Linked DNA regions of Homo sapiens: all the other regions are linked to region 1. The links come from fine-mapping of genetic effects on gene expression. A gene starts in region 1. Each other region holds a variant in brackets. All regions are shown on one strand. Distances are from middle to middle.

Region 1 (7,500 bases):
CTCAGCAACAACACCCAAGGTGGAGTTAGGGTAGAGGACAGGGAGGGTGGGGCCAAGCACCTCCCAATACCCAGCGGCTCCAGGGCATTAGGCAAAGCCCCAGCTTGCTCTTTTTTCTTACTGCAGCCAACCATGGAATCTGGGTAGCACAGGTTTTTGTCTGTCTTTATGTACTCAAACATTATCTTCAATCACACTTTGCTATTCATAGGACACTTTGGCAATAGTAACTATTTGGAACACAGTCAAAGAAGTAGGAGGTATGGAAAGTGCCTCTGAAACAATGGCGTGGAGGATAGAATGGCTTGGAGTTTATCTGCTTAAAATAAAAATACTTTACTTTTTTAGGAGCTCCTTAGGCACTCTGCCAAAGCCGAGTGACTCTACGGCAATTCGTAGAGCTCCCCAGTTCACAGGGGAACCAAAGTAGCAGGCAAGGCAGGGACAAGTGAAATACAAGAGCAGAAGGGGAAATGGAAAAACTAGAAAGTAGACACAGTAGTTGAGAAAGTGTACCTCTCTGGGCATAGTTTAGAGCAAGGACAAACTCTTTTTTTTTTTTTTTCTTTTTTTGAGACAGTTTCACTTTTGTCCAGGCTGGAGTGCAATGGCACGATCTCGGCTCACCACAACCTCCGCCTCCCGGGTTCAAGTGATTCTCTGGCCTCAGCCTCCCTAGTAGCTGGGATTACAGGCATGTGCCACCATGCCTGGCTAATTTTTGTATTTTTAGTAGAGACACGGTTTCCCCATGTTGGCCAGGCTGGTCTCGAACTCCTGACCTCAGGTGATCTGCCCACCTCAGCCTCCCAAAGTGCCAGGATTACAGGCGTGAGCTACCACGCCCGGCTGCAAGGACAAACTCTTGATGTGTCAGTGGACTTCAAGACATTGCTGTATTGCAGGATGGGTTCTTGTTCACAATAATGCCTGAGTCATCAGTAATGATTAAGCTAAGATCACTAACTCTGTTTTAGTATTCAGGGTCACGTGCAATGCATTTTAGAAAGATCTCCCTTGCCTAAAACTAAGGCAAAAATGAAACATTAGTGCAGAAAGGGTAAGCTTCAGTTCTTTTATGTTTTTTGAACAAAATCTCTCCTCCAGTTCTTAGACCTGCTGCAAGGGATCATTATTCTTATTCCTATTTTACAGAGGAGGAAGCTGGGCCTTCATGAAGTTCATTGATTTGCTCAAAGTCCCCAAACTAGTAAAAGGCAGTACTGGTTTTTCATACCCGGTTGTTTTGCTCTAAAGGCTGAGTTCTTGGCCTCCTGGCCTCAGGACATCTTCCTACTTTGGCCTCCCAAAGTGTCAGAATTGCAGGCATGAGCCACTGCACCTGTTAATTCCTGGTCTAATACAGTATTCTTAAGCAAAAAATGCTATAACATAGCAGTCATAGCTAAATCTGGCAGATGTTCAGTTATATTAGTTTCTTCATTTTCTGAACATGTACAATGTTTAACTGTGATCCCAAGCTTGGAAAATATGTTGGGTAGGCAGGTTGCAATATATGTTCCAAGCAAACACACATCAGTTGAGCTAAAACATGAAGGAATACATCATTGATTGAAAAACATAAATTACCTGAAGCTTTGTGGATGATGCTTAAAGAAACTGCTCAGAAAACAATGGTGATACCTATCATGGGTCAATTTTGACCATTCTTCAGATCAGCTCTCAAATGTTAAGCCTGGAATTTAATGTCCTATGCAGGCAACAATTTCTGCTATTTTCCTGAAGGAAAATAGTATTATACTCCTAGTATAATAAAAAGTATAATAAAAAGATTTCTGTATAGTTAAAAAGAACAGTAGAATACCCAAGTTTGAACCCTACACTTGCTGTTTACTAGATGGATAAGCTAGCTGCAATTTATTAGAAACAGTATTCATTTGAATAAAAATTGAGATGACATGATAATACAAATGATAATAACACCTGCCCTTCCAACTTCATAGAGTTGTTGGGAGGATCAAAGGGGATAAGTGAGTGTGCTCTGTGAATATATAGTATCATTACATTAATATGTAGTATTATTAAAATGGTAATTCTTTTTTTACATGGGTTATATCATTTCAGATGGCTTAAATTTAGTTTTATTGGTGATTGTTTTTGGTTGAATATAGACTGAAGGTATCATTAGAGTTTTATCTCCTTGAGGGATTATACCTTTGTAAACTTTGAGGATGTATTTAATTCAGTTTTGTTCTTTGATTATCAGTTATGTTGTTTGATTTGATTTGGTATGTGAAGTAGGAAGAATGGAAAGTGCCTCTGAATATCCATGATAGAATGGCATGGAGTTTATCTACTTAAAATCAGAATACTTCACTTCTTTAGGAACTCCTTAGGCACTCTGCCAAAGCCTAGTGACTCTACAGCAGTTTGTAGAGTTTTTATTAGTCCATGGTAACATGCAGCCCTTCCCAATATGCTAGAATCTTTTTCAGGTTTTTTTGTGCCTGGCTTTAATTTTTTGACCTGTCTTCAGGATGTGCAGTGGATCTCCTGGATAATGTCACATTCTGAGCATGGTTCCATAGGGAAGATTCATAAAACTGACCTTGATATCAAGCCTCACTCTACTGCAAATAGAAAACAGGAGAGACAGCGTGTCTGTGGCATCACCCCTACCACCTCATTTTGAATGGTAAATGTAATGTCTCGTCTACAAAAATGACAAGGTTGTATCAGGTGTGTGGGCTGGCCTCTTGATAAAGAGAAAAATACTATGTTTTAGAGGAGGCAATGCATAATGAATAAAGAGCCCAGGCTCTGGAATCAGACAGACACATTTTACTTAACCTCCCTAAATACAACCAAGTCACTTAAGCTCCCTTAACCCCAGGTTTCACATCTATAAAATAGATTCTTATAACTACCACAGGATTATTAGCACTGGTAAATGAAACAGCTTTTGTAAAGTGATTTCTAACATATGATAATAATTATTGTGAACCTACAGTTGACAGAGGATGGAAATAGAGATACTGATGAAGGAAAAGAGCAATGTGTCCATGGTGCCGCTGTTATACATCTTGGACTCATATAAACAACTTCTTCAAAGTGTGTTTCATTCATCTGTAGTGTAACAGAGCTACTCTCTTGGTTCTGAGTTATCCAACAGTAGTATTTTTTTTTGCATTAATTGTACTACAGTATCAAGAGAAAAGAACTATTAAGTTCTGTGACATTTTGTTTATAAGCTCTAACCATAGTTACTACATTTTTATTTTTATTTTTTTTTTTGATGGAGTCTTGCTCTGTTAGCCAGACTGGAGTCCAGTGGCGTGATCTCTGCTCACTGAAACCTCCGTCCCCTGGGTTCAGGCGATTCTCCTGCCTCAGCTTCCCAAGTAGCTGGGATTACAGGTGCCTGCCACCACACCTGGCTAATTTTTGTTTTTTGGTAGAGATGGGGTTTCACCATGTTGGCCAGGCTGGTCTCGAACTCCTGACCTCAGGTGATCTGCCCGCCTCGGCCTCCCAAAATGCTGGGATTACAGGCATAAGCCACCGCACCCGGCCATTTTTAAAAGAAAAATTTAGACTAGGTTATGAACTGTGTTTTGTTAGGGAGAAAAAAACCTGTGTAAGGCTAATACATGTATATATTTTACATATACATATATACATATGTATATATCAAACCTGTGTTATATATATATATAAAAACTGTGTAATATATGTATATATAAACCTGTGTAAGGCTAATATATGTACATATAAAACTTTACATATATAAATATATTTATATATGATTATATAAATTAATATATTTATAATAAATATATATACACACGCACACACACACACATATATATATATGGCCTATGTGAGGACTATTCTTTGAAGTCTAAAAGGCATAGCTTTGTGAAAATTATAAAGGGTCTGAGGCACTTGCTCCAGAAATACTTCCCAAACTGACCTACTTCTGTTTTCCAGCAACTCATATCTGAGTGTTGATTTTTTTTTCCTTTTAAACAAAGCTCCGTCTGCTCTCATATACCTCACTTCAGCTGTCATCTAGCTCCAGATAAGATGAATGTTGCTCCAATGCTGGTCATTTTCCAGGACTCTATGATATTAAATGAACCTATCTAGCCTAGTGATCCTCAAGTATATGCCTGTGTGCGTGTGTGCATGTGTCTGTCTGTCTGTAGTGTGGGTTTGCTTGTGAGTGGTAGAGATTATCATCTGGTGGTGACATCTCCATTCGGTTAGCTTGTGGGAGTGGTGGTACAGACTTTTTTTTTTCCTCCTCCACAGGGGACATAGGTTGAGAAACTCTGGCCTGGCAATTTAATGCTCAGTGCAGTTTGATGGTGATAAAACTCCTGAAGAAGGCAAGAGTGAGGCCTGAGTCTTGGAGAGTAAGTTGTTGCCAGTGCCTGACAGGCCTTCGGTTTAATTTGAAGCTGGAGGCCACATTGATAAAGTCGGCCCCGAAAGTCATTGCCTGTCTGATCGAATGCCGGTTTACCCAGCGGAGGCTGGGGGCCACGTGAGCTCACTTTCTTTGGTTTTCTACCCAGCAGCCCAGAATATTACCTTCCTGAAACCCTTTTTCATCAGCTAGCGATTCCTGAAAAGGATCTTCAAGATTTTTATGTTTCTCAGAACCTAGCAATAACTTGGAAAAGTTTTCCAAGTAACATTGATGTGTGGGTGTTCGGGGGCAGACAAGTTAAGGAGCAAGGCACCCTTTTTGAGGACCCGTGGCATGCAAATGACTTATCAGAATGCACATAGTATGACAGTAAACACCGTTTCTTACAGAGGTGAAATAACTCTCACTCCACAGAGACGGAAGTGACCCGAAGCTAGCAGTCCCCTGTATTTGCTTGTGTGACACCGAACATGTCAGATCAGGGTGTAGGAAACTATGCCTAGCGCAGAGGAGGGTAAAGGAAGTAGGGAGTCTGGTGGCTGCGGCGCTCCAGCTTCCAGCCACCGGCAGAGGAACCCTCTACGGCTTGAAAGGGAAACGCAGCCACTCAGCCGCTTCGACTGCGGCGGCGAAACCAAAACAGGGTGGGGCGGGGTGGGTGGTGCTCTCTAGTGGAAGGCGCCCGCTGGGTGAGGTCGTTTTGTCTGGCGGGGGGCTAGGACGGTCAGCCCGGGAGGAGGAAAGGCGCGTCCCGCCTCCAGCTGCAGGGCCAGGCGGCGGCGCCCGCTGGCGTCGCTTTCCCTCTCCCGGTCGGCCTCGGTGCAGGCCAGGCTGGGCGGGCCGGGCGGCGCTTGGGGGCCGGGCTCGGAGTCCCCACTTTTCCTCCCTCCTTCCCTCCTCTCGGGGCCGTCCCGAGCGGCCGGGCCAATGGGCGCGGAGAGGAAGGGAGCGGGAAGCGGGGCGCCTTGGGCCCGGCCCTCCTACGGCGCCCGTGGCTGCAGCGCCAGCGCCAAAGCCAAGTTTGCGCCTCGAGAGTTTGCGCCTCGAGAGTTTGCGCCGGTTCGCATTCCCCGGCCTCCCGTTCGCTCCCCCGCGAACCAGGCGGCCGTGCGCCTCTCGGGGCAACCACCCAAGAGCACCCGGGCGGGAGGACGCCGAGCAGGGGGTGTTGCGGGCTGGGACAGGGGCAGCCACCTCCCGAAGATGCAGGATGGCAGCAGAGCCGCAGCCGTCCAGCCTTTCCTACCGCACCACGGGCTCCACCTACCTGCACCCGCTCAGCGAGCTCCTGGGCATCCCGCTGGACCAGGTAACTGCAGGCCGGGAGCGCAGCGACCCCAGCTCCCCAGCGATCGCGTGCACGGGGCGGGCGAAAGTGTTAGCCACCGTCCCTCCGCCTCCATGGCGTATTTTACAGCCACACACTAGACAGTTGGTTTTTGTGTGTGTGTGTGTGTGTGTGTGTGTGTGTGTGTTTTCCCTTCTTGAGTTGGTGTTAGTGTTTTTCTCCTTGTAAGTGTGAAAAAATATTGGTACAGCCTGCGCGGCAAGTTCTACTGAACTTTTTTTTCTTTAAGTTTGGGATTGCCTCGTTTCCTGTAATCAAGTTCTGAAGTAGTCTGATACATGAAACCAGTGTTTCTTTCATCAGTGTCCTCAAGTCGTTATTGTTTTTAATTTAGATGACCCTACTTAAAAAACAAGCGCGATGAATCTGTAGACGGTAGTCTATAGATTTTGAATGCAGGACCTGGGTTTTAGACTTCTGAGGCGAGGCTTGTTCAGGGGTGACAGTTATTTTGTACCGTGTGTGATGCGGGACACACAAGGACACTTTGGTTTTCCCAGGGTTCGGTTGGCTCATATGCCTGGGGCTGGAGCTTCTGAGTAGGACAGGTTAGGGGGAGGAGAGGGGCCCCAGTGAAGTTATTTGAACTGTCCAGGAATTATCTACAACCATTAAAATTAAAAATGGCAACAACAGTGATTCCTGGCAAGAAACCTTCCTGAAGATGAAGCCCGTCTTACTCATTTCCTTGTCTCTTCAGGTGCTGCAGGCTAGATCTGCGGGATACTTAGTAGTGACCCAATCAGTAAATGTTGATTTAAATAGAATTGGGCAGGGCATGCTGGGGGAGGACCCACTGCGCTCCTGTTTTGTTTCATGCTTTTTTGCCTGGTTTTCTTCCCCTTCCTCTCACCAGTGCTCCTTTTCCTTTCCTTTTAACAAGAGCACACCTGCTGCCCTTTGCGCACACCCCTTCAGCAATGAGAAAGTGAGACCTGGACATTTGCCTTATTCGGGTCCTGTTTACTGAGCCACCCTCATACCTGGCTCACTCTGAGGACCTGACTGAGAACTCCACCTGATGTGACCATTGCGTTCTCATCAGTTGCAGAATACAGAAAGTCAGAAACTTGGGAAGGGTTTCGGTGCCAAAGCATTTGTGCTTTTGTAAATTACTCTTTAGTTTCTGGTGAGGATGAGATAGACCCAGGGACCCAGGCAGAGGCGGACATAATAGCAAATTCTTTAGTTCTGAAATTAAATAAAACTCATAGCTGAATTTCCTTAAGGGGAGTTTGTTTTGTACTTACCTCTCCACTCCCTATCAGAAGGTATTTTAATTGCATTTTCTCTTCTAAGCTCTTCTACACAGCTAGAAAGACTCCAGGAAGGCTTTTTGTATGGCTAAAGGACCATGGCAAGTTATGGCTGGGAGGTGCTAGAATAATGTTTTTAATGTCTTTCAATTGCATCCCCTACTTTCCTATAAAGGTAATTCTGGTTTTAATTCATAAAAAGGAACAAAAGAGCCTTAGGAATGTTTAAAACTGGGAGGGAGGGAGGGAGGGAGGGAGGGAGAGACTTCTGGGATAAACCGAAGGAGAAATGTTTGCCATGGCCAGGAGCACCTGAGATCTCTTAGCTCTTAGGTCAGTCTGACCACCCTCCAGCAGGAGTGAGTGTGGATGACCCTTGGTGGAAGAAGCACTTAAAAGGCAGTGCCCCAGGTAGCTTATTTTAGGCCCAAGGAAAATCCCCAAACCATAAATAAGGTCGTTTGAGGCTACGTTGTGGCTTGCGAGTTTGGAAGCTTTGT
Region 2 (5,000 bases), 50 kb after region 1:
AGTAGCTAGGACTACAGGTGCAAGTCATCATGCTTGGGTAATTTTTTAAATTTTTCATGGAGATGAGGTCTTACTCTCTTGCCCAGGCTGGTCTTGAACTCTTGAGCTCAAACCATCCTCCCGCCTCGGCCTCCCAAAGTGCTGGGATTATAGCATCACGCCTGGCAGATTTCCTACTTTATCCTTGAATGACACTGATTTGGCCACCCAATTACTGATGCTGCTGAGCAGACACTCCAAGACCACTCCAGGCAGGACAACATGTGCAACAACTCTGTGCAGGGAGCACAGAACAGAGAATACCTTTGTCTAAAGGCATGCTGGCTCCCAAAGAGAGAAGTCCCCAAAGGCCTGAGCTGGGCCTGCTCAGTGTCTCTTCTCAATTTAGCAGCTGGCTAATTAAGTCATTCCTCCTTCCCTGGGAAGGAGAGTGGGAGGGAGTTAGGGCGGAGAAAAAGGGGAAATGTTCCTTCCGTATTTTCCCTCCTAGGGAATGGAGTAAAGATAAACCTCTCTCTATGAAAATCTAAGTTCACCACACCTGCCATACTGTGTGGAATATTATACAGCTTTAAAAAGTACAAGCTAGCTCAGTATGAGTTGACTTGGAAAGATGTCCATCTTTTGTTGAATGAAAAACAAGTTACAGTGTAGTTTTTATACCATGGTTATGATAAAGTAAAGGAGAAATCAATGCATATGGGTATATTTTTGGATTTTGAAAGTAAATATAGGAAACAGTATTAAAGTGTATGCTCCATCTGCTAAAGAGGAAGATGCATGCTAGATATAGAAGGTTGGGATTATGAGGGATCTGTGAACTTCTCTCATGTACATCTCTGTATTGTTCATTTTTTTTAAATGAGCATTCATTAATTTTATAATAAAATGAAATTAGCTAAAAAATGAACTCTATGGCTTCTTTTAATGGACTTCATTTGTATGTAGTTCTCCTAGATGCCTGGAAGGACCTGCAGTTCTTATATGTTTCATTCTATCTTTGGAACATAGGATGTTGGGTTAATTAGCTCAGATGACTTTTACCTATTCTAACCAAACTGGTTTCCCTATTCTTTTTTTTTTTTTTTGAAACAGAGTCTTGCTCTGTTGCTCAGGCTGGAGTGCACTGGCACGATCGCGGCTCACTGCAGCCTCCGCCTCCTGGGTGCAAGCGATTCTCCTGCTTTAGCCTCCTGAGTAGCTGGGATTACAGGTGTGTGCCACCATGCCTGGCTAATTTTTGTATTTTTAGTAGAGATGGGGTTTCACCATATTGGAAAGGCTGGGCTTGAACTCCTGACCTCAAGTGATCCACCCGCCTCAGCCTCCCAAAGTGCTAGGATTACAGGTGTGAGCCATTGCACCCAGTCCACTATTCATTTTAAGCCTTCTGCGTAGAGTTGGGTACACAGTGTGCCAAATGTTTCTCATAGCCCCTCTGCAGGTTCGTGAAGCAGGGTGTATGGAGTGGACTAGCTCTCAAAAAAGTATCAAGCAATACAGATGTTGTAGTTAATGTTGGACATGTAGTTTTGAATCCATTTACAAAGTGGAAGCAGATTGGACCACGGAGTCAGGAGAATCTGGCCACAGTAACCTTTCCCCTCTATGTACCGGTTTCCTTACCCACAAAATGAGGGGCTTGGATCAGATAATTGCTAATAGTCCTAGCTTCTCTTGTCTATTTTATGCCTGATTTAAATCTTTAATTACAGATGCTCCTCAACTGACGATGGAGTTACATCCTAAAAAACCCACTCTAAGTTGAAAATATCAGAAAAATCAAACAATGCATTTAATATGCCCAACCTATCAATATCATAGCTTAGCCTACCCTATCTTAAATATGCTCAGAACACTACAGGTAGGCAATAATCTATCACAAAGCCTATTTTATAATAAAGTGTTGAGTATCTCATGTAATTTGTTGAATACTGTACTGAGAGTGAAACACAAAATGGTCATATGGCTACTCAAAGTTCGGTTTCTACTGAATGCAAGTCACTTTCACACCATCTTAAAGTTGAAAAATCGTAAGTCGAACCATCATAAATAAGTCAGGGACTGTCTGTACTCTAACATACACTCGCTAAGCTGCCTCTTTCTTCCCGGTTGGCATTAGAAGTTGAAGCTGTGGATCTCAGCCCTGGCTGAATATTAAAATCACCTTGGAACTTAAAAAAAATTTTTTTAAAAGATGCCTTATCCCCCAACCTCCCACAAATTCTGATCTGGATTAGGATTCTAAAATCAGTCACTTTAAATTTTAATTTTTCAAAAAAACAGATCTTTGGTTGATTCCAGTGTTGAGAGCTGCTATGTTGAGAAGTCCTGCTAGTTAGCTACTGTACACTTTGTAGCCTATCTAATACTTGTGAAGCTTTATAGTTCTTTTAAAGTAGTATATAAAGTACTTTTGTAGTACTTTCACGTTCCATTTAGTGCCCACCACAATCTGGTAGGGTAGATGTTATTAGTATCCCACATACCCACTTAACCTTGTAAGTCTCTTATTTGAGGTTACTTTTCATGATGGAACCAGACTGAAAGAAGGTGACTCCAGGCCCAACTGGGTGGACCTGAGCCACAGGAAAAATTTCAGGTTACATATATATGGGGTGTGTTTGTGTGTGTGTGTGTGTGTGTGTGTGTGTGTACATGCACATACATTCTATATTAAATACATATATTTGTATTATATATAGATTTTATACACACACATTATATAGTAAACATAAGTATATATTATGTACATAATATATACACATATTAAAAATATATATTATGCACACACATTATTCAGACACATGCACATACAAACATGCCATTGGTAGTGATCTCTATCTGTATAAAACTTGACATCCC[G/A]GGCCCCGGTCAAGGTTGTAAAATCACCCCCTAACATTCCACCTCCTTATTCAGTGGGATCCCTTCAGCAGTGTGTGCCCCTCACTCCTTATGGAGGCCCAGAATTCTTTACTCAGGCTCTTATTTTTAGATGGGCCCCTTCTGACCCTCTGTACCCCAATTTTCTCCCACCTCACCTCCAGGGCTGCTGGGGAATCATCAGAAGGCATGCTGGACTGGAGTCAGGACACCTGAGTTCTGGTCTTAACTCTGATGTTCAGAGGCTGTGTGACCCAGGCCAGGTCACGTACTGGCTCGGGGCTCCAGTTCCTTCATCTGGAAAGTGAGATATTGAATCATGCGAGAAGGTTGTGCCTGAGTAGAACCAGACTCCCTGAGATTAAATTCCAGTGTTGCCACTGACTGGGTGTATGATTTTGGGTAAATTTTCTAACCTCTCCATGACTGAATTTCCATATCTGTAAAATGGAAGCCTCAAAGCACATCAAAAGTTGTCAAGATAAAAGGAATTATACAGGCAGAAGGAATGAAAACAGTTCCTGGGAGGTAGTCAGCAGCACATTAATGCTAGCCAATGTTAATATTATTAACAATAAAGTATGAATAATATTAACATTTTTAACTGGTTAACAGTGGAATTTAATGGGAATGTTTTCTTTCCAGAGGTGAGGAGTAACAGCGTGCTTGTGGACAGGGTTTTTTAAGAGTCCTAAATGGTCCTGAGTTTTATACAGTCTTCCCTGCCTGCTGGGCCAAGGATTATAAGGATTTGATTTATGGGATAGGAGGCAGGCTGAAATACGTAGATATCACCTATGTACTTCAGGATTTTTTCTTGCCTCGAAGCCTAAAGAGACAGCACAATCGTTTTCCACCTTTTAGCCATTGGAGTAAGTTTTTAAAGGGCTTTCGTTCTAAATCATAACTAATCCATGTGACATGATATTTGCAAAATAAGGTAAGCCAAAAGTCTCCCTGTACAATTTAATCTCTAAGTGTATAAGGACTCTTTCTCTGAGCATTAAAGGAGGGATTATCCCATTCTAGAGGGACTGGAGGATGTACCCAGCACTGATGGAAAGAAGCTTGGTTCATGACTATACAAACTACAGACAGAGGGTTTACACATGCCTCAAAGAACAGTTGTTGGAAAGGACTTTCAGCTCTATCAGTTTAATTCAAATTTTCCCTTGTACAAGAATGAGATCTTGAGAGGCCACTGCAGGCAACCTAAGCCTCTCAGTTTGACTAATGGAGCTGCCCTACAGCTGAGGGTTTTGGGGCCATTGACTTTGTGCGAGTTTTCTCAGTAGCACATCGAGAGTTGTCAAGAAGATTAAATGAGACAGTAGATGTGAAGCATGCAGAATAACAGCCAACATTTGTGGAGACTCCAGCACATAATATGTGTTTAATAAATGCTGATTATTATTGCTTCAAAACTTGTATGTTTTAAACAAAGGTCAAAGGATAATGAACTTTCTCAACATGTGTAAGCCCATTGTACCCATTATAGGTTAACAAGCTCCTGACACACACAGGAGCTGGGAGAACCCTCTCTGGTGCTGTCTGTAGTGGCTGAGGCACCTCCAGGCAGATGGGAAGCTCCGAGGCTCCCAGCATCCCACGCAGCCTTTGCTTTGAGTCTTACCTGCTTCCTAGCTGTAGGTGCAAAGAAAATGAAGTGTGTTTCATTCCGTGGGTTTGAGTAGAGGATTTTTATTGGGCAGTGTTGTGGGCCAAATGTGTTCCCCCAAAATTTAAATGTTGAAGTCCTAAACCCCGAGTCCCTCAGAATGTGGCTGTATTTGAGACAGGGCTTTCAAAGCAGTCATTAAGTTATTAATAACTTAGTAGTGAAGAAAGTCATTACAGTGGGTCCTAATCCAACATGACCGGTATCCTTGTAAGAAGAGATTAGGACACAGACACACACACAGGGAAGACACAGGGAGAAGACGGCCATCTGGAGCCAAGGACAGAGGTCTCAGAAGAAACCAACCCTGCCGACACCCTCAATCTCAGATACCAGCCTCCTGAACTGGGAGAAAAATAAATTTCTGTTGTGTTTTGCCCCCCAACCCACCCTCCAGTTTTTGGTATTTTGTCATGGCAGCCCTAGAAAATGAATACAG
Region 3 (5,000 bases), 77 kb after region 1:
AATGCCACTGTACTCCACCTGGGCAACAGAGCAAGACCCTGTCTCAAAAAAAAAAAAAAAAAAAAAAAAAAGGTTAAAATGTGAGTGTATTTTTGTGTACTGGGTTGAAGAGTGTCCTCCCAAGATTCATGTCCACCCAGCACCTCAGAATATGTCCTTATTTGGAAATAGTCTTTGCAGATGCAATTAGTTAAGATAAGATGAGGTCACATTGGGCGGGGCACCGTTGCTCACAGTTGTAATCTCAGCACTTTGGGAGACTTGGAGATGGAAACCAGCCTGTCCAACATGGTGAAACCCCGTCTCTACAAAAAATACAAAAATTAGCAGGGCGTGGTGGCGCATGCCTGTAGTCCCACAGCTACATGGGAGGCTGAAGCAGGGGAATCGCCTGAACCCAGGAGGTGGAGGTTGTAGGGAGCGGAGACCACACCACTGCATTCCAGCCTGGGCGACAGGGTGAGACTTGGTCTCAAAACAAACAAACAAAATAAAAACCCAAACAAACAGATCAGGTCACACTGGATTAGAGTGGGCCCTAGATCCAGTACGACTGTGTCCTGGTAAGAAAGCCATGAGGGACAGACTCACACACATGCATACAGGGAAGACGGCCATGTCAAGATGGAGGCCGACATTGGAGTAATGCAGACGCAAGCCCGGGAGCTCAAGGGTTGCCGTCAGTCACCGGAAGCAAGGAAGGAGAATGGAACAGATTCTCTCTCAGCGCCTGCAGAAGGAACCAGTCCTGCAGATATCTTGATTTTGGACTTTTAACCTCAAGAACTGTGAGAGAAGACATTTTTGTTGTTGTAAGCCACCCAGCTTGTAATTTCTCACAGCAGCCCTAGGAAGCTCATGTGCGTTGTTTTATGATTCCCCACCTTTTGATGAATTAACAACCGTCCCCTGATCCTGATCATACAGGATAAGGATGCCTCTACCGTCTGCATCTCTGGCTGTTCTTGTCACATCTCCATTTGTTTTATTAAAACCATAAACTCTTGAATAATTTCTACATCATTTTGAATGTAATCAGAATTCTGAAATTATCAAAGGGAAAAAATAAAGGGCATTTGTGGAAAACAGTCACGTGCTTCTGAACATCGTGGATTTGGGGGTTTGACACAAGAGGAGCATGGAAATCAGTTCCTGTCAACCTCACTTTCAGCCACATAGTCTTGATAAATGTCCTCAAGAGATGTTTATTTTCTGGCATTTTTTGGATCTCCTCGTAGTAAGAAATCTCTGATGTTACCCACAAAACTACAGAATATTTAAACTAGAAAGGACATTGTTGTTAGGGAAATAATACAGAAAAAAAATCCGCCTGAAAATTGCATGTGATTCAGTTCTGTGATTACTGAGTGGCCCTACTATCTAGTTCTCGAAGGGTATGTTGTCTTTTTTTCTTTTTGTCATTATTAAGCAGTGTTATTTTTCCCTACCACCGTAAAGGCAGGCTGCCTCACTACCATAAATCCCTCTTCCTGGGTAATGTCAGTTAACATCCATGGAGAGTACATACCAACCTGAAATTGACAAAATGTTTTAAATCACAAATTGCCAGTTAGAGAGGTATTTTACCAGTGTTTATTCTCATTACAGGCATGCGAGCAAACCACAAGTTCATCAGAATGGAATTGATTTAACCCTACTATTGCAGTTGAAATATCTTGTTTCGGATTTTGTCAAGAGATAAAGTAGTATTTTGAAGTTGAACCTGGTGTTTTAAAGCAGCCTGATGTATAGCCATTCTCTTTTGAGCATGCATGCAAACCTAAATGTTTAGCATACTTTATTATGCCTTCAGAATAAGAGCACAGACAGGAATTGGATGGGATGGGATGAGGTTAGTGTTTGTGTTAAACAACGTGTGTGTGTGTGTGTGTGTGTGTGTTTAATTTTGGGGAACACATAAACTTGTATTTTAGATTATTCTGGGACTTGAAATTGTATTTTTCATTCCAAGAGTAATCAAGTTTTCATGGACTGGACTGGAATTAATGGTAAGGGAAACAAACAAGATACACTTTTATTGGTGCTGCTAATACAATTCATATCAATACATGCGGTGGTGAATGTCCTTTATGTTTTCTCTGTGGTGAATGTGGGCTGTTAAAAGCACTAGAATATTTCCTGTTCTCCTGGGGGAAGCTCAATGATTGCTTGTAATACAGCTGGTACTTAGTTCCTTTTAGGTTTGTGAGAGCAAACTGATTCTTCCTTTTTGCTCACAGAAGGGTGCAAATCGAGTTTTCTTTGGAGGGCCCCAGCAAGAACTCTTATTTCCTTTTGCCATGGTAGGCCAGATTCAGGCAGATAATTGCTCTCCCATCACGATTGCAGGTTGATTTGCCCACATGTTGTTGTAAACACTGTGAAATGAGAACTCTTATGTACTGCTAGTGGGAGTGTAAACTGGCATAACTCTTCTGGAAGGCAGTTTCACCATCAATTTCAAACAAGATTTTTTTTTTAAAGTTCATATCCTATGATAGGATAAATTCCTAGGAGTTAAATTACCATAAGGAAATCAAAATTTATTCATAAAGATGTTCAGCTGTTGTCAATAATGGTGATAAACCAGAAACATCCTAAATGGTCTAAAAGAGATGAATGATTAAATTATGGTGCTACTATGCCTCCATTGAAAATGATATTTTCAAAGACTATAAAAACCATAAGACAAATACATGTCCCAAGATTGCATTTTTCTTTTTAATGTGGACATGTATAGAAAAAGAGTGAAAGGAAATATTGAAAATGCGAAAGCAGTATTGGTGATTTTAATACTCATTCTACTCTTTTATATTACTATAATAGTGAGAGAAAATCCTGGAATTTTATTTAAATATATTTGCATGCGTGTTAAAAGGTTATGGTGCACTGAAGCTA[G/A]CAGAATTGGAACAACTGCTGTTTGTGTTCCTTGTTGCCTTAATTGGGTGTAATAGAAATATTACTTGCCTGTACCTCTTGCTAGCGATAGAGATCATTTGTCCTATTGTTCCGTGGACAGTGTTTTCCTCTGTTGGTTTATGACATCCTGGTCACTCCATCTGACCAGCCCAATATGTTCAAGTAATTGGGTTCCATAATAGGGAAAAAAAGAGGATATTTGCAAAGAGATTTCAAGATTTGTTTATTTCATGTTTCTTTTTCATGCTGCTGCCAGCTTTTCAATAACTAACACAGTCACTTGGAATTTAATTCTGCAGACATAAGTTATACCAAGTATATTCGAATATAGAGAATATTCAAATCGAGAATTGGTGATTTTGTTGTTGAGTGCCAAAATATAGAAGTTAAATTTTTGAAGAAATTAAAAGAGTAAAAGCTTTCCTACTCTAATTCACCCCTGGATGGTTCTGAATAGATACTAATGAACTCTGAAATGAGTCCAGAGGCGTGATCTCTGCCTTTAGTTGCATCCCTAGGAAGCCTGGTAGAACTATGTACTTCCTTTGCTGCAACTTCTGGAGTTGCTTATTTTCTCATGCTGACATAATTGATAAGAATTGGGAGCATTCCACTGAAGCTGTAATATCCTCCTCCTCCTCTGCAGTCATTCAGGGAGTGTGGGGAGGGTATAGGAGAGGCAGAAGCAATAGAGAGGTGAGGAAATGCTGCTTGAGCTTTCTCTGTCCCTCGCTACCAGGTCCGAGCTGCAGGTTGTACAAGTCACATTGTATCTTGGCACCCACTGGAGTTGTGCGAGATGGCAGTAGCGGTCTAGGTTGCTGTTGAGTGGAAGTTTGTTGAATCTGTATTCTCTTCCCCTGCCAAACTTCTTGCTTGCCTGACTTCCTGCTTTTCTACTGTCCAAGTACCACAAGTAGATTTTTATTATAAGCAAAGGAAGTAATAAAGATACGAAGTAGAGCCTTTTGGTTCTAAAATTACCTGTTGGGAGAACATCAGAGGCTTGAATGTCAGTTCATCTTGATGCTGGCCAGCCAGACGTGTGATTGGTTGGCTCTTCCGACACCAATAACCGATGTCTGGGTTATCTCATTGTCCCATCCTACCTTTACTGGGACATCAGAACTCTACCACTTTAGGTCCAAAGATTAAGGTAAAATAGGTAGGTTTTATTGAAATATTGCTCAAATCTAAGATTTTGTTTAATGTTTTAAAGATAAATTATTTTTGGTTAGGAGCTGATGTTGGGAATGAATGAATGAATGGGTACCACATCTGATGAATTGCCTAGAGTCTGTATCAGAAGGCAATAATGGGGGGTGCTGGCATTGTTCTAGCTTTCTTTTTACTTCAAACATATCTTCAGCTACCTGTTTTCTCTTAATTTTTCCTATTCTATTATATTTCATTGTCTAGTCTTGACTAATGATCTTAGTTTCAAGAAGAAACATAAGATTTTTCTTTGGCTTTTTTTAATAATGAAAAAAATGTATAGGACAATAGTAAAATAGCCCTACTTCATCCATGCTGGAGTCTATCCAACTCCAGGTTGGTCAGATGGTGGATCCTATGATTGGATCCTATGATTGACAAGTGCGTTTAAATCCAAGGTTGGAGAGGTGAAAATCTGAGTGAAGCTCAAGTTCGGAGGCCTCATAATTTTAAGGAAATTGTTGGGGCTGCATCAAGGAGCCATTTATGGATCTCCTCCTTTTTTTGTCCTTCCTGTGCTTTTAGTATGTTCTCCTGTACTGAGTTTTGTATTTTTTTGCAAAAAAAAAAAAAAAAAAAAAGAACATGAATTCCAATCATAAACCAATAAATGTGTTCTGAATTGTTTTATGATTTGATTGAAGTATGACATAGATGATACTTAAGTTTTATCTTAAGTCAGTAACTCTAAGGATTTGATTCTCAAGTCTTAGTAACTTGGGCGAAGTACATTTTCATATCAGATCTGTCCATAAGTTTAAATAAATTCATCAAATTAAAAAGTGTTCAGAGAGAACTTGTTTTGAGAAAGACAGTATGGTGCTTTTCCTTGCACTGCACAAAAGTAAGTATGTAGGAAGATTCTA

The links. PIP is the estimated chance that this variant, and not a neighbour inherited with it, causes the effect.
Region 2: its variant is the best candidate, but not a certain one, in a credible set for the expression of MBOAT1 in subcutaneous fat (GTEx, PIP 0.77).
Region 3: its variant is the best candidate, but not a certain one, in a credible set for the expression of MBOAT1 in whole blood (TOPMed, PIP 0.82).

The regions. Positions count from the first base shown.
Region 1 is chr6:20,210,341-20,217,840 of GRCh38, reverse strand. MBOAT1 (membrane bound glycerophospholipid O-acyltransferase 1) reads left to right here and starts at 5,372. Exons shown (of 13, transcript NM_001080480.3): 1 at 5,372-5,705. The coding sequence starts at 5,607. RefSeq lists an enhancer at 4,344-4,844 and a silencer at 5,027-5,566.
Region 2 is chr6:20,161,831-20,166,830 of GRCh38, reverse strand. All of the region lies in intron 1 of MBOAT1 (membrane bound glycerophospholipid O-acyltransferase 1), which reads left to right. Among named protein-coding and RNA genes, the nearest start is that of MBOAT1, 48 kb to the left of the region's middle. The variant G/A (reference allele first, on the strand shown) is at 2,866.
Region 3 is chr6:20,134,618-20,139,617 of GRCh38, reverse strand. All of the region lies in intron 4 of MBOAT1 (membrane bound glycerophospholipid O-acyltransferase 1), which reads left to right. Among named protein-coding and RNA genes, the nearest start is that of MBOAT1, 75 kb to the left of the region's middle. The variant G/A (reference allele first, on the strand shown) is at 2,899.